Linked DNA regions of Homo sapiens. The protein of the gene in region 2 interacts with the protein of the main gene of each other region in a pairwise test. Each region holds a gene or a part of one and is shown on either strand. Other genes may lie near its edges.

Region 1 (10,609 bases), on a different chromosome or scaffold from region 2:
CCCCAACAAGTCAGAAAAATAAATCAGAAAAAGCCCCAGATTTCAAAACCACCTGTGCCTAAGGCCATCTGTCCACCAGTCACACTGTACAGAGCCGCCCCTCTGCTGTCTGGTCAGGTTTGAGCCACGATCAAGTATTTCTAGACACTGTGCGCCCTTCGCGTAACACCTACACCACACTGCACTGAAGTGAACTTCATGAGCCCACACTTTTGAATAAATTTCTTCTACATCTGTAAAATATGATTTAAAGTCTTGTCCAAGATTACAAAAAAAAAAAAACTTGGTTAAAAACCCAAGGTTAAAAATAGAAGCATAGCATTTTAAATCCAATTATTACAAAGATATTATGGTTTAATCAAGCAGACTTCAATGACGACGCTGCTGTTTTGAGCATGCAACACACCACTGGTATCTGTTACACTCCTGCCATGTTTCATCACCATGTCCCCTCTCTTTATTTCCAGCCCCTGTCACCCTCCTCTGATAAACAGCATTACAAAAAGGTAAAATCTAGAGTTAGTGGCAAAATCTTCACAGTAACCTGTTAATAAAGTCGTAGATGGCTGTCAAGGGCGTCAGTCAATTGGACCTTGGAAAATTAATTTGATGCAGTTTTGCTCCCCAACCAGCTGTGTAGCACAGAAAGGGCAAGCAGCGTGAAATGCATGAGTTCCATGAGGCAACGGGATCTGAGACCAGTATTTTGCAGACTTCTCCGAGCACACGTGTCCACAGGGAGTGAAAGCATGAGTTGGCGGTCCTGCGTCTACATAAAATCCTGCCTCACAGCCAAGCCAGAGAGGCACATAGGGGCCCACAGTCCTGCACATGGGACACTCCCTCTCGTTGGCCTCCGTGTCACTCCGATGGCCCCAGTTGTGGTACCCGTGCACGTGGCCACAACTGAGATATGCCCAGGGCTGCTTCTCCTCCACCACCTCTTTCCTGTTGATGCTGGGGAAGGCCAGGGTGTTGAGCCCCACAGGACACTGAGGCCGGGCGGCGTTAATCTCCTGCCGGAGGGCTTCTATGTGCTTCTGAGTTGGAGTATGAAAAAGCCCATCTGCTGTTCTCCAGAGGAGAGTGGCCCCACACAGGTCAATGAGGGAGCCGTCCTGCAGGACGTTGGTCTCACTTTCCACCTACAACAAGTTTGAGACACATGCCTTTTAAAAGCAAAATCAAGCAAATCACTCCAAGATTCTTTCCTCTCAGAACAAGCAAAAAAATATTTGAAGATAACACAGGGAAGCAATTTATCCCACAAAAACAGAACTGGGGGAGTAACCTATCCTCCCCGAGCCTCATCTTCCTCATCTGATCACTGGATATGATACATATATGCCGTATGTACAAAGCCCTGAGCACAGTATGTATACCTAGCTTTACATGTTCAATTACTGTAGTGGTTATTTTAATGAACTTCACAAATCTCCTAAGATTTTCTTTTTAACTCCTTAAGTCAGTAACACAATGACTCACTGATCCCATAGGATGAGAGATGTCCTACCAGTCCATCCAGTGGAGACTCATCCTCATCTTGATGACAGCCAATCCAGAAGATCTTGCGGGGGGCCTGCAGTCATTACTGGAGGGTCCAAAGCACTCCTGGTGACCCTTAGCTTCCTCCACCTTGAATCTATCTTTCATCATTCATTTTTAAGGTTTGAAGCTAAACAGTTCAACATGAGCCTTCATTTTTAGAAGGAGGCCTGTGCTATGCACTAAGTGCTTATAAGACTGATTAACAGCTGACAAGCAGCAGCTAGGCGTGGTCAGCAAGAACGTGACCGCTGCCTCCACATGCCAGATGCATGCTAAGCCTTGGAGGTACCAAAGGCCAATAAAACCTCTTCCCCATCCTGCTGAGACTTGCTCTTCAGTAGTGGAAGGCAGACATGCCCAGAGCTCAGAGTGCATGAAGGCCAGTAAAGCACTGTTCAAGGCCACAAATTTATAGCAGCCAGGAGTGTGGACTCTGGGTTTGAACCCTGGCTCTCCCACTTATTAGCTGTATGACGCTGTGCAGATTACTTAAACTCCTCGTGCCTCAGTTTCCCCTTGTTTAAACTTTAGAAAAGGTGGTTGTGTTAGATAAGTAAATGCAAAGAGTTCTTAGAGAACACTGTCTGGTACGCAGTCAACACTCTGTAAATACCTGCTACTATTACTCTGATGATGACAGACGGTCAGAAATGGTTTCTAAAAGGTTTTTCTTTAACAGAGATTTGAGAAAGATGTCAGGCCTCAGTAGGGAGGATAGCAGGAAGGCACAGCAGGGAGAAGGAGGAGAGGCCAAATGGCATATGCACCAAGGGAGCAACAGGGAGTTTGATGAGGCTGTGCAGCCAGGCTGAACAAGGATGGACGCAGTTCAGGGCACTGGGTGGGGGGGGACGAGAGACCCAGGCGGGAGAGGGAGGCTGGCATCCATGCCCAGAGGGAGTTGGTAGGGGGTTTAGGTAACTATAAAAGAACTGATTGACCTTTCAAAAAGGTCACTTCTAGAACTTTGGAGGGTGGGTTGGAGGGGTAAAGATGAGCTGTGAAGGAGGCAACTGGTGCTCTCTCTGGGTAGAGAGGGTGAGTACACCTCAACAAAGACAGTCTCAGTGGCAAGAGACAGAGGCACAGGGACTAGAGAGAAAGAAATTAGACTCGATGGCACTCAGCTCTTGATCTGAGCAAGAGCCTCTTACGTGCCTGGTTGTCTGGGTAGAACAGTGCTTTCCACAGACAGAAACACAGGAGAAATGGCAGATGAGGGAGTAAATCCTGATTTCACCACTTAGTAGCTCTGTGGTCTTGAGTCAACGACTTAACCTCTCTGGGCCTGGCTTCCACATCCATTAAGCTGGAATAATGCCAATACATGTCTTATAGGATTGTTGTGAGAACTAAATAAGTTCAACAGCAAGAGCCAGGCCAGTTCAGTTTTGGGTGTGCTGAATGTGAGGGTGTGCAGAGTATCGGTGGTGGTAATGCATACAAGGCACGTGTGATGCAGCGTTGGAGACAGATCAGGCTCGAAGAAACATATCTGGGATGTTATCCGCACCTAGGTGAAGCTGTGGGAATGGATGCCACTGCCCAGGCAGGGTCCCAGGGAGGGCAGAGAGGACTGAGGACAGAGCCAGGAGCTGGGGTGGAGGAAAAGAACCATGTAAGGGAAAGAGAGAGGTATGGGAAGCACCAGAAATTTTGTCAATCTTTGGTTCAAAGGACTTTGGCGGCTTTCTGCTGCCCTTGGGGTACAGCCCAAGCTTCTTAACACACTTAAAAGGTCACTCCCAATGCAGTCACTCGACTTCTCCTGCTGTAGCTCTTCCCTTCCTAACTGGAAACCAGGACTGTCCTGCGATGAGCTGCAAGGAGCTGGAGTCCATGAGCGCACTACCTCGGACTGCCCACAGGCAGGTGCAAGAGCAACCTCTGCCTAGAATACTCCACTCCAGTACACCCTGCTCCAGCTGAGCCCTGGTTGGCAAACTCCTACTTGTCATCCAGGTCTCACCTGGATGTCACTTTGCCCTGGACATTTTCCTTGTCATGAAGAAATCAGCCCTTCCCAAGTATTAGTTTTTAGAAAAAGTTAAGGTCCCAACAAATGATAAATCTTAATACTGTACAGGACATACACTGTGACTCCTTTCAGACAGCCTGAAGTTTGCTGATGCTCCTTCCCCGCCCCACCACCATACCGAGCATCCCATGGTCTCCTCTCCTCTAACTGGTGACGTGAGGCTCCTGACCTTGCTGACCACAGGCAATTCTCAGAGGAGGCCTCATTGCAGGATAAAACTGTGTCTAAAGGATCACCCTGATGTGGTAAGAAGCTGAGGTATGGTGGTGGCCTAGCCTCTGGCTGTGGAACAACCCCCCTTTCCTCCTGCAGGGCAGTTCTTGGTAAACAACAAAGTCTTATTATAAATCTGGGGTGTATGGTTTTTTATTTTCCACATACCCTTGACTCCCACATCTGGGGTAGGTGTCCTGTGGAGGGAAAGTACCTTCGGTACCTTCTCATGACTGTGCTCATCACACAGTATCTGCTGATCTGCTGCCTAGTCTGTGACCTCCTCCAGACCATGCAATTAGAGGGCAGAGCGTGGACTTGGTGTTTTCTGCCACATCCCCAGTTTGCAACCCCTGCTTAGTAATAACAACCAGCCAGTCATGGGGCATTACTGTGTCCAGCACTGTTCCAATCCTTTCCAGCTACTGAATTTAGTTCTCACAACAGTCCTATTAGACATGTATTAATATTATTCCAGTTTGGGAGATGTGGAAGCCAGGCACAGAGAGGTTACGTCGTCAATTCAATACCACAGAACTAAGTGGTGAAACCAGGACTTGAACCTGGTGGCCTGATTTAGCAATCATTAGTAGGCATGAATTCAGATTTTATTTTTTAAATTCTACCACAAAAGAAAAGCTATGAGCAGGCACAGGAATTGACAGTATTGTGGAAGCAAGAGACATTTGGCCTCTACCATGGCAACTAATGGCCCCTACATAGCAACTATCTAAGCACAGGGTAGTGAATTCAACCCCCCATCCACCACTTCTTATTAGCAAGTGACTTAACCTTTTAAAGCCCAGGTTTCCTCATCTGTAGACGGACACAATAACAACACTGACTTCACGGGTTATTTTAAGCAACACTGGAAAGACAATTAATGTAATGCACCTGCTAGAGCCTGACCATAGCTACGCTATGGTTATTTTTATAATTTCACCTAAAATTAGGTATGCAATCAACTTAACTGAATTTACTTAATTTTATACAAAGCCAGTTTAGTTTAATAAAATACTTCATATATAATTTAATTAAATACTCAAGGCCCTCCTGGAGTAATATTATAAATGTTACCATATGTTATCATTAACTAGCTAAAAAAGGAGGGCACAATTCAAACTCCATTCACCTATTTATTCAGGGAGTTAAAGGCCTGAAAAGACATTTCCCCCATATTTAATTAATTTTGTTGATTAGTACACAGTTCTGAGGTTCCATCATTTGCTGTAATAATGAAAAACAACGGTGATTTCTTGTTACACATACATTAGTATATTGATTCATATCAAATGCTCAGTATGATATTAATACATAATCTTCCACCAGCACTAGCTCCACAATGTGACTACTATTGTTTTAACAAATATTTTAGACTTTTAGCAGCTCACTTTATTTCTCATATTTCTGTATTAGACTGCAAATGACAAGTACTGCCAGAGACTGTCTCCAAAATCTAACCTCCAGATAAACATAATTTATATCAAATGCTACCAGCAACATGTACAGGACCAATGAGTCATGAATTGAAACAGAAGTTCAAAGAGTCAGTAAGCTTTCCTCGAAGACAGACAAAAACTGTTCTCCAGAGGTTAACAAGAGGAGATTGCAGGAAGAATGTATCCGTTCAGTGTCCCATAAGCCCAAGATCAGGCTGATAGAAGCCTTTGTAACTGGCCAGGTTAATCGGATGCTATCAAATAGGACAGCACAATTTTACATAGTTCTCAGTGTCGCTTATAGGGACTAACTTCAAAAATAGCCTGTATATTTAATACAACTCATTAATACAAGCCATTTTTGGAGTTCGTTCTTTTCAGTCGCACTGTAAAATTCTCCAGCACACATAGCAGCCTGAGAAGGGTCATTACACAATAACCAGAGTGGACGAGAAACTCATCCTGTGATATGCCCTCCTGGACAAAGGCGCTCCCCACGGACTCCAGCGTATGCTTTATACTCACCCAGGGAGGCAAATGCTCAGGTGTAAACCATCCCTGGCTCCCCACAACATGGTACTGAGTAGTATTAGGTGTCCAGGCTCTCCATCAGGGAGACCTGAGTTTGAATCCCACTGGCTGCCACCTGCTAACTCTGTGACACTGGGCAATCTTTAACTTCACGCCACATCTTCCTCATCCATGAAATGGGGATGACTCTACTTCCCTAAGAGGGCTGCTGTGCAGATGAAGTGAGCTCATGTCGGAAATGTTAACGCAGAGTCTGCACCCAGCAACCATTTACTGACTTCTTACTCTTGCTGTTATAATGATGAATAACCAGTTTGGCCAATCTAGGTCAGTTTTGTATAAAACTATCCAGTGATCAGAAACAAAAGATTATTTAGAAAAACTGCTTTCACATTTCCTCCTTTGTTTACAATTTCTTGAAAACATTCATACAAAATTTATTGAATTTGCTTTTTTTTTAGAAAATGCTTCTCATATTTATTCAGCCATGGTGCACTGTAAGACGCATACGCTGTGCCTGAAGCTGAAAAATGGTGTAAAATAGAAATAAAAATAACCATTCCCTAAACACAAACATCCAGTAGAGAACAGCAAATGAGGTCAGTGAAACAGCCCCCAACTTCTTTTTCCATCTTAGACATTTTTGGTGATGATCTTTCTCTCTGACAAGTGCTAGGTCAAATCCTCTATTCTGTATACATTTTATTCTGTGGGAGTTTTGAAGAACTCCTTCTTTTCTAGCTTCTAGAAAAAGACATTTGTTCTCTCTCGTTCTAGCTTCTACCTAGCAAATTAAGAAAAGTACAGGAATGGACAGCTTACTAAAAATCAGTGGCTGTGCTACATGGCTATGGCAAGATCAGAAACCCAAAGTTCTATATTTAAGGTATTATAATTATTCTCCAAGAAAGAATGGGTTTAAAAAAACTGCTTTAGGGCATGGGGATAAGTGGTGATATTTATAGGAAAATATTAACATGCCAGGTCAATGCAGTATATAAATCATTTCAAGTAAACAGTTGTAACTATGATTTTGGTGGACAGTATAGAGAATTCTGCCTTAATATATAGGAATTCAAAGGGAAAACCAGCTGACTTATTTTTTACTTCCAGAAAGTCTAGTAAATAATTCCTTAATGCATAATTTTTACTAATTGTTTTTGGACTGCTCAAACGTTTTCCAAATCAATAAAGTTTTACACTAAAAATAAGTTTCTTCTCCTTAAAGTGAATTTAAGTAGATTTTTGTGGTGAGGTATATAATAAAAGATAATGCTCTTCAGGTGGTAAGGAGCAAAACACAATTTACTCCCACTATGGGAAAAGTTGAACCCCTGAAGGAGATAAGGCCATTTCCCTCTTGATTTCAGGGGCTTGTGGAATTCTGCTTCTCCTGAGTTACAGTACATGGCGCTTGGACCTGCACAAAGGTTCTGAACATCAGGGGAGGAAAATGATAGCCTTCGAGTTAGGCTTGAGTAGTTTCGTACTTCACACTTGCAGAGTGAAGCACACTCACCAGCTTTCCTCGTTGCTGGGCCGACCTGGTTTCTCGCAAGGTGTACACATCTCCACAGACAGAGATCTCGCGCCAGACCCCGGGCTGGGACTCCTCGGTGAAGCCCCCTCGTGGATGCATCACCAGGACGCCATTAGTAGTGAGCCCATCCATGTGGCCGTCGGGGTTTTTCCACTTTGCTGCCTTTTCCTGGAGAGAACACAGCAGAACAGAAAAAGTAGGTTAAGATGATGTTGAAATGGAAAGGATTCTGGAATTTCTTTAATACATTGCATAGAGGCAGAGGGGAGGAAGGTGATGAATTTTCATTTTCTATTTAAAGCTAATAATCACAAGGATAACATATGCCATCCTTTCGACAATATAAAAGAAGTGCTGAATGGATGAATGACTTATCACTGGACACACATCATAGTTCTCAAGAACTTGCAAAAAATCGAGGCCTGGGCTTCTCCCTCTAAGATTCTTTTTACCTTCCCCACAACCCCATGAGATTCCAGGAATCTGGTGTGTTTTCTCTTTTCAGTTATACTTATGCCATGCTCCTATCCTGTTATCTAAAAGTACTTTCTATGTTCTCACTGTCAGGATAGAGAAGAGAAAGGACAGTCATAAAGAAAGACCTTTTATTAAAGCTAGAAAATTCCAAAAATGTTAAGCCAACAAGTCGGGGTCATTATGTTTTCATAATAATCACCGTTTAAATTCTCAAAGGTAGATGGCGCATGTAGCTTGACATGACGACAGGACAGACACTCTTGGGTGCTTGTGCCACAGCTCTTCCCTTCAGCTTTCTTGGTGACAGAGCTCAGCTACTGTTCATGTGGCTGGGGCGGGGGTTGGGGGGTGGTGGGGAATCCTGATTAACCCAACATGACACTCCCAGCCCTCTTCCCAATAGCTGGTTTACAGGTGGGCACAGCACATGACTGGGCTCTGACTGATGACACATGATATCTTCTTGGAGGCTTCCAAGAAAGGTGTCTGTGCTCTAAGAAGAGACAAGGAAGAAACAGTGCTTCTGCCACCCTCTTCTCTGGCTGGAAGTTGTCATGTGGCAGGGGACATCTGGAAGTGCAGGAGCCAGCTCTCACCCACAAGAAGACCTCCCAGGAAGAGGCTGGTGCACCACGGGAGGCAGAAGGCAAGACAGAGAGAACCCAGTGCACTGGATGTCACAGAACCACTGAACCACCAACCCTGGAGCTGGCCTTCATCGGCACTTCTTATGTGGGAATAGTACATTTTCACTGATTTTAGATCATTTTGAGTGGGTTTTTTCCTGCAAAAATATCCTAATTCAAAAGGAAACTATGTTAAACCTGGATATTCACTAAAACTTCTGGGGTTTACAAGGAAACCCTATAAGGGCAGGGATTCAAGTCTGTGTTGTTCTCTGTAATCCCATAACTAAAACACCCAGTATGGAACATAGCAAACACTCATAAAACATTTTTGAATGAGTGAATCACTAACATTTTCCTCTAAGCCCTAATGATCTAAATTTGGCCCATTTATTTTTCTCTCTGAAATAAACCTCTTCGTTGCCGTAAATACATTATGGACAATGTTATAGGCATACTTTAAAAAAAGTACTTACTGTAAATATTACAATATAAAAAATATAATGAATAACAAGCAATGCTTATTAATGTTCAGATTTTTAATAACAAGTTTCTCAAACTGGCCACCTGAAAACTAAAATCTCAAAATCTCACTAGAGGCAACATACAAAGCCAATTTTTTTTTGCTCCAATTAAATGTTCCATATCATAATCACAAGCATTTTTCTAGAAATCGTGTACTTCTTGACAGTACTTACTCCAAGAAATATGTTTTTGGAAGAGTCAAATCCGGCGGCGAATATCCGTGCTGTGTAAGGTTCATTCCTGTCGCACACGATCCTGCAGGCGAACCTGGATATGGTGCTCTGTGTGATCTGGGCTTCGTCCGTGTTCTGGCTGCCAGAAATCGTGTCTGTGACAACGAAGTCGATAGGGCTTTCTGTTGATCTGCCCACCTAAGTAAATCAAATGTACTCGTGATTCACTTGGAAAATAGCAGGGTGCCGTATTTTATTCACAAGGAAAAAGCATTCAGGATTCCTTTAACATTCACTATCCTTGTTCTGAGGGTTAGAATTTAATGCAAGATTTTCATTCGTGCTCCTTTTCCTATTTAACTAGGGAAGATATTAGGGTAACCAAATATTAGAGATACCTATTTTTAATTTTATTGTATTGTGCTAAGAATATAATATGAGATGTATCCTCTGAAATATTTGAGCACATAATGCAGTCATTGTTGACTACAGGCAGAACGGTGCACAGCAACTCTCTAGAACTTACTCATCTTGCTTAACTCACTTTATGCCACTCACTAGTTCATTAGATTTTAAGTATTGAGAAAAAGCTCAATTAAGAGGACAGGAGTAGATCTTTGGCCACTCATCAGATTTTATCTCTTGGATTAATGTTCTATCCCAACAACTGTAACTCTGATTCTGAAGTTGCCAATGGGAGGAATGCAGAGGCCTGTGATGTATGCACATAAAGTTCCCAAAAGTCAATTTCCAAGGCATTTTTATTCTGGTCTCAAAGTTCTATCTACAAACTAGGCAATGTAATACATTTTTCATCCAAATGAAGAAAGTAGAAAAAAAATCTTGTATCACTTAGCTCAGCTTGCTTCCTGGAACAATATTACATTTCTTTTGTAAATCTCATATATACGTTCTCATGCACAGACTATCTCTCTAAAACCAGCAGACCACAGACATCTATTTTCTTTTGTTTTTTTATCACCCTTAATTTCTTGCCCTAATGAAATGTGCCTGGAATGAACTAAACTGCTGGTTTCATTGAAACTTAACAATTTGAACAGATGCATATTGCCTAGATATATGCATTTCAGGTTTTGAAAACACATAACTTGTTAAAAAATGCAATGTAAAATCTAAATTAGATGTATTATAAAATCATATAATTCATCCTTCTAAAGCTGCAAAATCTCCTCTCTGCTAGATTCATTTAAAAACTGGGTAACTTGGAAACTCTACTGATTCAGACTGCTTTAATTTTGTTAAACATTTTTTAACAAGAAAATTAGAAAAGTAATGAAGACTTATTGCAAAATATTTAACAAATGGAGAAAAGTATAAAGGCGAAAACAAAGCCAACTTCAAACTTAGGCGTAAACCTGTCCTGAGCCTCTATTCCAGTGAAGTTTAGGAGTAAAATGTGATAAATTCTAGAATTTCCCAGTCATCTCACCAAACCTGGAGCCTCATAGCGACAGTCACTGTCACAAGATTTGTCCATC
Region 2 (11,006 bases):
TTTATATATACATATATATATATGGAGTGGGGGTGGCCGAGGGGGAAGAGTGTGTGTCTGCGGGAGAAAGAGGAGAATCGCCCAAGCGGCCTCGGAAGCCCCAGGGAGTGGAGGCTCCCGCCGTGGAGCCATGTGGTGTATGTGTGGTAACACCACGTCTACGCCCCTCTCACTGATGCTGCCGCGGTGTCTGGAGCTGAGCGGGAAACAGCCGCGGTTAGTTTTTTATATGGACTTGGAGACACAGGGCACAGCTGGGCTGACGCCCTCTCCACCGTCCGGCTCCCTCACGTCAATTCCATCTGTCCCCATGTGCCTAGGATCCCTGTGACTCTCAACATGAAGATGGTGACACCTTCCTGATTTGACCTGATGGGGCTGAGTCCAGATGCCCCAGAGGACGAGGCTGGCATCAAGAAGGCAGCAGAGAACATCAAGGCCTTGATTGAGCATGAAATGAAGAACGGGATCCCTGCCAATCGAATCGTCCTGGGAGGCTTTTCACAGGGCGGGGCCCTGTCCCTCTACACGGCCCTCACCTGCCCCCACCCGCTGGCTGGTATCGTAGCATCGAGCTGCTGGCTGCCTCTGCACCGGGCCTTCCCCCAGGCAGCTAAAGGCAGTGGCAAGGGCCTGACCATCCTCCAGTGCCATGGGGAGCTGGACCCCATGGTGCCCGTACGGTTTGGGACCCTGACGGCTGTTGTCACACCTGCCAGGGTCCAGTTCAAGACATACTCGGGTGTCATGCACAGCTGCTGTCCTCAGGAGATGGCAGCTGTGAAGGAATTTCTTGGAGAAGTTGCTGCCTTCTGTCTAACTAGTCGCTGGCCCCAGTGCGGTGCCCCAGCTCATGGGGGACTCAGCAAGCAAGCGTGGCACCATCTTGGATCTGAGCCAGTCGAGCCCCTGTCCCCACCCTTCCTGGCCTGTCCTTTTCCCACAGGCCTCTGGGGCAGGTGGCAAGGCCTGGCCGGGCTTTCCTTCCTGGCCTCAGCCACCTGGCTCTGTCTGCAGCAGGGGCAGGCTGCTTTCTTATCCCATTTCCCTGGAGGCAGGCCTCCCTGGCAGCAGTATTGGAGGGGCTACAGGAAGCTAGAGAAAGGGGCCCAGCTGCTGACCCACTCACTCAGGACCTCACTCACTAGCCCCGCTTTGGGGCCCCTCCTGTGACCTCAGGGTTTGGCCCATGGGGCCCTTCCAGGCCCCTGCTCTAACTGATTCTGCCCAGATAATCGTGTGTCTCCTGCCTCCACTCAGCTACTTCTCAGTCATGAAGGTGGCCATGGCCCTGAGGTCCCCTTGCTGCTGTGGGCTCCCTGTCCCTGGGCAGGAGTGCTGGTGAGGAGGTGGAGCCTTTTGAGGGGGGCCTTCCCTCAGCTGTTTCCCCAAACTGGGGGGCTGGGCCCTGCCTCCCCATTACCCTCCTTCCCTGCAGGCCTGGAGCCTGTAGGGCTGGACTGAGGTTCAGGTCTCCCCCAAGCTGTCTCACTCTGACTTTGTCCCCACTCTAGAGCAGGGAAGGGGTGGGGGAGGAGTTGTGTCTCATCTTCTGTCTCCATGTGGTTTTTGGGTGCTTTTCTTGTTGTGTCCTGGATTCTGATAAAATTAAAGAAATTGCTTCCTCAAAAAAAAAAAAAAATATATATATATATATATATGCCCAGGTGCAGTGGCTCACGCCTGTAATCCCAGCACTTTGGGAGGCCGAGGTGGGTGGATCACCTGAAGTCAGGAGTTCGAGACCATCCTGACCAACATGGAGAAACCCCATCCCTACTAAAACTACAAAATTAGCCGGGCATGGTGGCGCATGCCTGTAATCCCAGCTACTCAGGAGGCTGAGGCAGGAGAATCGCTTGAACCTGGGAGGCAGAGGTTGCGGTGAGCTGATATCGCACCATTGCACTCCAGCCTGGGCAACAAGAGTGAAACTCCGCCTCAAAAATAAATTAATTAATTAAAAATTAGGGCCAAGATCACGCCATTGCACTCCAGCCTGGGTGACAGAGTGAGACTCTGTCTCAAAAAAAAAATATATATATATATGTATATATGTATATATATGTATATATGCGTATACACGTATATATGTATATATGCGTATACACGTATATATGTATATATGTATATATGCGTATACACGTATATATGTATATATGTATATATGCGTATATACGTATATATGTATATATGTATATATGCGTATATACGTATATATGTATATATGTATATATGCGTATATACGTATATATGTATATATGTATATATGCGTATATACGTATATATGTATATATGTATATATATGTATATATGTATATATATACACACACACATATACATATATATTTGTGATTTATTTATTTTTCTTTTAGAGACGGGGTCTCCTTATATTTCCCTAGCTGGCCTCAAACTCCCGGCCTCAAGGGGATCCTCCTGTCTTAGCCTCCCCAGTAGCTGGGACTACAGTCGCCTGGCCCTCACCTGAGAGTCACATGCCTAAGAGTGGCTACGCTGGGCAGTTCATTCAATGTCCCTCCCCCACCTGTTCCAAGCAACCACTGATGTGCTGTCTGTAACTACAGATTAGTCGCATTTTCTGGAATGTTCTATAAATGGAATCATACAGTGCGTGTTTTTTGTAGCTTCTTTTGTTCGGTGTGCTTTTGAGATTAGTCCCTGTTTTGAGAGTAGCATAGTCTGTTCCTTTCTGTTGCCAAGTTTCATTCCATTGTAGGGGACACTTTGATTCATGTTACTCATCCCTCTTGTTGATGGAGGTTTTGGGAGTGTTTTTATAAGAGGGCAGAGTCCAGATCCCAATTAATTACAGGGTGGGTTTTGTGTACCCTGGAGGAACCCTTGCATCATAGTCAGAAGGCAGGTGAAGCTGAGTGAGGTGGCTCCTGCCTGTAATCCCAGCAGTTTTGGAGGCTGAGGTGGGAGAATCACTTGAGCCCAGGAGTTCAAGACCAGCCTGGGTAACAGCGAGACTCTGTTTCTACAAAAAATTTAAAAATTAGCCTGATATGGTGGGGTAGGCTTTAGTCCCAGCTACTTGTTTTTTTGTTGTTGTTTTTGTTTTTGTTTGTTTTTTTGAGATGGAGTCTTGCTCTGTCGCCCAGGCTGGAATGCAATGGCGTGATCTCGGCTCACTGCACCCTCTGCCTCCCAGGTTCAAGCGATTCTCCTACCTCAGCCTCCCGAGTAGTTGGGATTACAGGTGCATGGCCACCATGCCCGGCTAATTTGTGTATTTTTAGTAGAGATGAGGTTTCACCATGTTGGCCAGGCTGGTCTCGAACTCCTGACCTCAAGTGATCTGGGTTTTGTTTTTTATTTTTATTTTTTATTTTTTATTATTTTGAGATGGAGTCTCTCTGTCACCCAGGCTGGAGTGCAGTGGCATGATCTCGGCTCACTGCAACTTCCGCCTCCTGGGTTCAAGCGATTCTCGCGCCTCAGCCTTCCAAGTAGCTGGGACTATAGGCACCACACCCAGCTAATTTTTTTGTATTTTTAGTAGAGACAGAGTTTCACCCTGTTGACTAGGCTGGTCTTGAACTCTTGTCTTCAAATTATCCACCCGCCTCGGCTGATAGTCCCAGCTACTTGGGAGGCTGAGGTGGGAGGATCACTGGAGCCTGGGAGGTCGAGGCTGCAGTGAGCTGTGAAGCTGTGATGATCGTGCCACTGCACTTCAGCCTGGGTGACAGAGTGAGATCCTGTCTCAAAAATAAATAAATAGGAGGGCAGGGATCTGTGTTGGTGGATGTGATTTGGAAGGAGGCACTGGGTGTGGGTGGGTAGACAGGGAACCAGGCTGGTGTCATGCCACAAGGGGTTCACACGGGTGATCATTGCTAGACTGAGGGAGAAGATAAGGCCTAGGATGATCCAATCTGGAGGTCAAAGCATGGCATTCAGCTCTGTCATTTTTCTCTGCCTTCCATTTCTGCAACCTCAAATGGGCGCAACGTCCCTACCCCCCAACCCCAGTTCACCCGATGCCAAGTTGCATTATCTGTTTCCTGTGCATGGAGGCCCCCTGATTTCCAGGAGGGAGTGAACTGTGCATATGAGCTTGCGATGGGGTTAGCAGTGGGGCACAGGGCGCTGGTTTCCTGGAATGGGGTAAAAAGTGGCTGTAAGTCTGGAGGGATGCGACATCCAGGCGGAAAGCTCATGGAGGCCATATGAGGAGGGGACTTGGCCGACAGAGGTGACAAGGCCAGACTCTTTTTTTGTGCATGTGTGACAGAGTCTTGCACTGTCGCCCAGGCTGGAATACAGTGGCACGATTTCGGCTCACTGCAAGCTCTGCCTCCTGGGTTCACGCCATTCTCAGCCATACTCAGGCCATACTCAGCCTCCCGAGTAGCTGGGACTACAGGCGCCCACCACCACGCCCGTTTAATTTTTTGTATTTTTAGTAGAGACAAGGTTTCACCGTGTTAGCCAGGATGGTCTCGATCTCCTGACTTTGTGATCCGCCCACCTCGGCCTCCCAAAGTACTGGGATTACAGGCCTGAGCCACCATGCCCGGCCCAGACTCTTCTTATAAGGAGAGGGAGCTGAGGAATGGCCATTTCCACCCTCAGGCTCCCACCCTCTTCATGCCACAGTCCTGGAGCACCGCTCTCCACCGAGGCCCCTGCCCTGGCTGAAGTCAGCAACAGGACACCTCCCACTCGCTCCGGCTGGGCTGGGACCCTTGTAAAGGATCTTCTGCGTCCTTCATGAACTTGTGTTTTTGTTTTTTTGTTTGTTTTTGTTTTTGAGACAGAGTCTCACTCTGTCGCCCAGGCTGAAGTGCAGTGGCGCAATCTCGGCTCACTGTAACCTCCGCCTCCCGGGTTCAAGCGATTCTCCTGCCTCAGCCTCTCGAGTAGCTGGGATTACAGGTGCTCGCCAGCATGCCCGGCTAATTTTTGTATTTTTTGGTAGAGACAGGGTTTCGCCATGTTGGCCAGACTGGTCTCGAACTCCTGAGCTCAAGTGATCCGCCCGCCTCAGCCTCCCAAAGCAGTGGGATTACAGGTGTGAGCCACCGCGCCCGGCCTTATGCACTTGTTTTGACACCTGCTAGGTCGACAGAACCTTGTCCCCCGGAAGCCCAGCTCTGCCAGGAAGTCTGGGCTGACTTGACATCCCGTTAGCTGGGAGGGTGTGGAGGGTGGGCGTGCTCTACCCTGCAGACGGCTGGGTCACCTCTCACAGAATATACTGTGTCTCCTGTCGCTCTCCCTCCTATTCCTTTCTTTATCTTCCCCAAAATCTGGGGTCTACCTTGCATCCTGAAATTCCCAGGGCAGCATTCTCTTAGCAGTCCCTCGACCCCCCAACCAGATAAGGGGTTTCCTGGCGTCTGGGGAACACCTTCGGGTGTGGGGCGGAGGGCGGCTGCCCCCCAGAGACCCTGGGCGGCCTAGCTTTCGCAGACGCGAAGGACTGGATAGTGCCAGGGCCACCGAGCGGCCGGATTGGTGTGTGGGCCAGAGGCGCGGTGGTCCCGCCTCCTGGTTGCCAGGGCCCAGCCTATCCGCGTCCAGGCGGTCCTTGGTGCCAGGTGGTTGTGGTGGGGGTCGGGGCAGGTGTATGTGTTGGGAAGGACAGTGGAGGACCCCAGGGATTTGCTCCCCCAGTCCCAACCGTTGACTATCTGGGTTCCTCAGGCGCAGCTGGGGAAACAGGCTTCCCCCGGACCGCAGAGAAGCCACCCTTCTCTCCAAAGCGCGCTTCTCCCCCATCCCCCTCGGCGCGCTTCCGCCGGCCGCGCTCCCGGGTCCGGATCGAGCGCGCGCCCCCGGCTCTCCCGCCCGCGGCCGAGGGGCGGGACCGGCTCGGCTCCCCCGGCGCCGCAGCCCGCAGCCCCCTCCCCTCGCCTCCTCGCCGCTGGCGGCCACCGCGTCGCTCCGGCCCGGGCCCCACCCCAGGCGACTCTGTGAGGAGCGGCCGGAGGCCGGAGGCGGAGGTGAGCGCGACGCGAGCAGGTGGAGAGGCTGGGCGCGGGCCAGGCCCGGCTGGGGGAGGGGTCGGGCCCGGGACGCGGCTCTTTGTCTCCCGGAGCCCGTTCGCGGGCAGCGGGGCCGCTCTGCCTCCCGGCAGGTGCAGGCATCCCTCGGGGAGGCCAGGGGAGGCCGATGGGGGCTGGCGGGGAGACCCGGGCGTGCGCTCCGGGTCTGGAGGGATGCGACATCCTGAGCCCGTGGCAGTCCCCCGCTCTCGAGGCTGGCGGTCTGAGTCCCTGAAGGGGCAAGGGGCAGGGGCGTGGAGATCGGTCCTGAATTGGAGCCGAGGCGGGGGAGGCGGTGGGCTGGGGCGGGCAGGGCCTCTTCGCTTTAGGGAAAAGCGGTGGGGGGTGGGACTTGGGGACAGCGAGGAGCAGTGGGGCTGGCGAGTGGGTGTAGGTGCGTGGGAGCCGAGCGGATGGAAGCCGAGGCCGAGGTTTGAGTGTCCATGGGTGGCGATGCTGCGAAAGGGCAGTGAGGTAGCAGGGTCCAGGTCTCTGGAGGCGGCGTAGCTGTCCAGAACCTGGGATGCGGACCGGTTTGTCTCTTCAGGTGCAAGATGGACAACAAGAGAGACAAGGCGAAGGCAGGGGCCGCCGCGCGGACGCCGGCTGCTCGCGCTCCTGGACTTCTGACCCCCAGGCCCCCAGGCTCTCCTCGACCCCCTCCCCCAGTAACTCCCGCAGCCCTCCGAGTTCTGGGAGCTGCGGGAGCAGTGGGGCGAAAGCCTCTGGCAGAGCGAGCGGGGGGCATCGGCGGGGCCACTATTCCCGAGTCTGCTCCCCGAGCGGGACCAACGCGGAGTGCTGGGACAAGTTCCCGAAACCCTGGTACCCCAGCCTCCTTCCTCAGCTCCGCCCCCATCTTCCCTCCCCCTTCCAATACCTGTCCAGTCTCACCTCCACTGCCACCTCTCCGGGGCACCTGTGACTCGGCCTTCTCCCCGCAGCCTCCAGGCCCCCAGCCTCTGGGAGAGGGGAGAGAGCTCCTCCTGCCAAGAACACCAGCCCAGGCCCTGTTTCTAGCCCAGGGCGTGCCAGCGGGACCACCAGGTAACCTGCTCCCTCTCCCCCAGTCTCCTAAGCCAGGGTTAGCGTCACAGAGTCTGGAACCTTTTATTTTACACGAGTTGGGGCGCGGGAGCACTTGCAGGTCACTGGGCACAAATTGGGTGAAAGCCATTATTGGTCCTCAGAGAGGGCACATGCCCATTTCACAGATGGGAAAATAGAGACTTGGGAAGCCAAACAAAGACCTAGGCCTGAGCGTGGCCCCTTCTGTCTCCAGGCCAGGCCCTCTTGGCCAGAAGGGACTCCGGATCTCAGCGGAGGAAACTGTGGCCAGAGGAAAAGCTACAGAGGCTCCCAAAAGGAGTGCCCTCAGCGCTGGGGCACGGAGAGGTACGTGACCTGGAGAAGAGTGGGGTTCCTGGGCAGCAAGGGGAGCCGCCTCAGAGGTATCGGTGACCCTTGGCCTTCTACTTTTTCTCCAGACACTTCCGGGCCTACCCCAGGAACCCCGTCCCCGGCCATGGCCCGTCGGTCCCGGGCTGCGGGCACCGAGGTGGGGCTCCCCCGGCCAGCTCCGAGTGCCCGGCCACGGCCCCCGACAGAGGGCCCCCGGAAATCAGTGAGCAGCGCCTCGGAGCACAGTACCACCGAGCCAAGCCCGGCTGCCAGGAGGCGGCCCAGCGCCGGTGGGGGTCTCCAGAGGCCGGCCTCGCGCTCCCTGAGCTCCAGCGCCACCCCTCTCTCCTCCCCAGCCCGTTCTGGGCCCTCAGCCCGCGGAACACCCAGGGCTCCTGCGCATCCCTCGCAGCCCAAGCCGAAAGGACTGCAGGCTCTGCGACCCCCTCAGGTCACACCCCCAAGGAAGGACGCAGCCCCAGCACTAGGACCGCTTTCTTCCTCTCCTTTGGCCACACCCTCTCCATCGGGTACCAAGGCAAGACCCGTACCGCCTCCCGACAATGCAGCCACTCCCCTGCCAGCCACGCTCCCTCCCTCTCCACCGGTAACGCCCCCTCCGCCAGCCGCTCTCCAAAGTCAGGCCCCGCCCACCCTGCCGGCCACGCCCCACTCGTCGAGCCTTACCTGTCAGTTGGCCACGCCCCTTCCTCTAGCCCCTCCTTCTCCCTCTGCTCCACCTTCTCTGCAGACCCTCCCCTCTCCACCAGCCACGCCCCCCTCGCAAGTTCCACCCACACAGCTGATTATGTCCTTTCCAGAAGCAGGCGTCTCTTCCCTGGCCACAGCCGCTTTTGTGGCTTCAGTCTCTCCATCAGTTTCATCCCCTCTGCAGAGTATGCCCCCCACCCAAGCTAATCCAGCGTTGCCCTCTCTTCCGACTCTCCTCTCTCCCTTGGCCACACCTCCTCTGTCAGCCATGTCTCCTCTACAAGGCCCTGTTTCTCCGGCAACATCTCTGGGGAATTCGGCTTTTCCCCTGGCCGCACTCCCTCAGCCAGGCCTTTCTGCTCTGACCACGCCCCCTCCGCAGGCCAGTCCTTCCCCGTCTCCGCCCTCTCTCCAGGCCACGCCCCACACTCTGGCCACTCTTCCTCTGCAGGACTCTCCTCTTCTGGCCACATTGCCTCTGCAGGCCTCTCCCTCTCCTTTGACCACAGTCTCTCTGCAGGATCCTCCTCTAGTTTCTCCCTCTCTTTTGGCCTCACCGCCTCTGCAGGCTCCGCCCCACCCACAGGCCCCACCTTCTATGACTACGCCCCCTATGCAGGCCCCGCCCTCTCTCCAGACCATTCCCCCAATACAGGTCCCACATTCTCTGACCTCACCGTCTCTGCAGGCACCTCCCTCTCCTCTGGCTTTGTCCTCTCTGCAGGCCACAACTTCTTTGGGCTCACCCACTCTGCAGGCCACACATTCTTTCCTGACAATGTCCCCTAGGCAAACCCAAGCTTCTTTGATCTCACCTTCTCGGCCGGCCTCTACTCCCCCTGATTCACCCCCTCTGCAGGCCCCTCTTTCCCTTCCTGCCTCACCCCCTCTGCAGACTTCTCTCTCTCCTGCTGTCTCACCCCTAAGCTCACCCCTGACCATACACCCTCTGCAGGCGCTATCTTCTCTGGCCTCCCACTCTCCTCAGGCACCTCTCTCTTCCCTGATCATGCCCCCTCTGGAGACCCAATCTTCCCTAGCCCCACCCTCTCTGCAGACACCTCCTGCTTCCCTGACCACACCCCCTCTGGAGAACCTACCTTCTCTAGCCCCGCCTCCTCTGCAGACAGCTTCTGCTCCCCTGACCACACCCCCTCTGGAGAACCTACCTTCTCTAGCCCCGCCTCCTCTGCAGACAGCTTCTGCTCCCCTGACCACACCCCATCTGGAGACTCCACCTTGTCCAGCCCCATGCCCTCTGCAAGCACCACCTTCGCCATTGACCACGCCCCCTCCGGAGACGCCCTCTTCCATAGCCACGCCTCCTCCACAGGCCCCACCTGCTCTGGCCTCACCCCCTTTGCAGGGCCTGCCCTCTCCCCCTCTGTCTCCTTTGGCCACGCCCCCTCCACAGGCCCCACCTGCCCTGGCCTTGCCTCCTCTGCAGGCCCCTCCCTCTCCCCCTGCCTCACCCCCTCTGTCTCCTTTGGCCACACCCTCTCCACAGGCCCCAAATGCTCTGGCAGTGCACCTTCTGCAGGCCCCTTTCTCTCCCCCTCCCTCACCCCCAGTGCAGGCCCCTTTCTCTCCCCCTGCCTCACCCCCAGTGTCTCCTTCGGCCACGCCCCCTTCACAGGCCCCACCCTCTCTAGCCGCACCTCCTCTGCAGGTCCCACCCTCTCCCCCTGCCTCTCCCCCAATGTCTCCTTCAGCCACGCCCCCTCCACAGGCCCCACCCCCTCTCGCTGCGCCTCCTCTGCAGGTCCCACCCTCTCCCCCTGCCTCTCCCCCAATGTCTCCTTCGGCCACGCCCCCTCCACGGGTCCCACCCCTTCTTGCCGCTCCTCCTCTGCAGGTCCCGCCCTCTCCCCCTGCCTCACTCCCAATGTCTCCTTTGGCTAAGCCCCCTCCACAGGCCCCACCTGCTCTGGCCACACCTCCTCTGCAGGCCCTTCCCTCTCCGCCTGCCTCATTCCCTGGGCAGGCCCCTTTCTCACCCTCTGCCTCACTCCCAATGTCTCCTTTGGCCACGCCTCCTCCACAGGCCCCACCTGTTCTGGCAGCGCCCCTTCTGCAGGTCCCTCCCTCTCCCCCTGCCTCACCCACCCTGCAGGCCCCACGCCGCCCCCCGACCCCGGGTCCGGATACCTCCGTCTCGGGCCCACGGCTGACCCTGGCGTTGGCCCCCGGCCCGCCGCCGCCGCCCTCGCGCAGCCCGTCCAGCACGCTGAGCGGCCCAGACCTGGCCGGCCACAGCAGCAGCGCCACGAGCACGCCAGAGGAGCTGCGTGGCTACGACAGCGGGCCCGAGGGCGGTGCCGCAGCCTCCCCGCCCCCCGACGCAGAGCTCGCCGCTTGCCACCCGGCTGCCTGGAGTCGAGGCCCCGCTCCGCCGCTGGCTTTCCGCGGAGCCCCAGGTAAGGGGCACCCCAGACCCGGCCTGGCTGTGGGCGGGGTCGGAGGCGAGGCTTCGCAGCTCAGGGGCGGGACAGCTGGGTCCGGGGCGGAGCTTAGACAAGGAGGCGGGACCTTGAGGCAGGGGCGGGGCTTATCACCCCCACGGCCCACCTGGCGTCTCTCCCCGCAGGTGCGCCCCTGCCGTGGCCTCCCGCTACCGGACCGGGCTCTGCTGACGGTCTGTGCACCATCTACGAGACTGAAGGGCCCGAGTCGGCGACCCCCGCCCCTGGCGCACTGGATCCGGGGCCCAGTCCCGGCACGAGCGGTGGGAAGGCGGCGGCTGGGGCCGGGGCCGGGGCGTCCTCGCGGAGCCCGAAGCAGGCGCGCCTGGGCGAGCTGCCACTGGGGGCGCTGCAGGCGAGCGTCGTGCAGCACCTGCTGAGCCGGACGCTGCTGCTGGCGGCTGCCGAGGGTGCC

What was found.
Region 1: the proteins of PRR36 (region 2) and PELI2 interact in a two-hybrid assay, tested with the Homo sapiens proteins (one study listed by BioGRID).

Annotation. Positions count from the first base shown.
Region 1 is NC_000014.9:56,287,136-56,297,744, reverse strand, and holds part of PELI2 (E3 ubiquitin-protein ligase pellino homolog 2), read right to left. Parts: intron 9,309-10,609; coding exon 9,111-9,308; intron 7,478-9,110; coding exon 7,289-7,477; intron 5,027-7,288; coding exon of another isoform or gene 4,979-5,026; exon of another isoform or gene 4,390-4,978; intron 1,146-4,389; coding exon 579-1,145; 3' UTR 1-578. UniProt on the Homo sapiens protein: E3 ubiquitin ligase catalyzing the covalent attachment of ubiquitin moieties onto substrate proteins. Involved in the TLR and IL-1 signaling pathways via interaction with the complex containing IRAK kinases and TRAF6.
Region 2 is NC_000019.10:7,869,255-7,880,260, reverse strand, and holds the start of PRR36 (proline-rich protein 36), read left to right. Parts: upstream 1-5,870; 5' UTR 5,871-5,975; intron 5,976-6,564; 5' UTR 6,565-6,571; coding exon 6,572-6,842; intron 6,843-6,961; coding exon 6,962-7,064; intron 7,065-7,299; coding exon 7,300-7,412; intron 7,413-7,504; coding exon 7,505-10,546; intron 10,547-10,716; coding exon 10,717-11,006.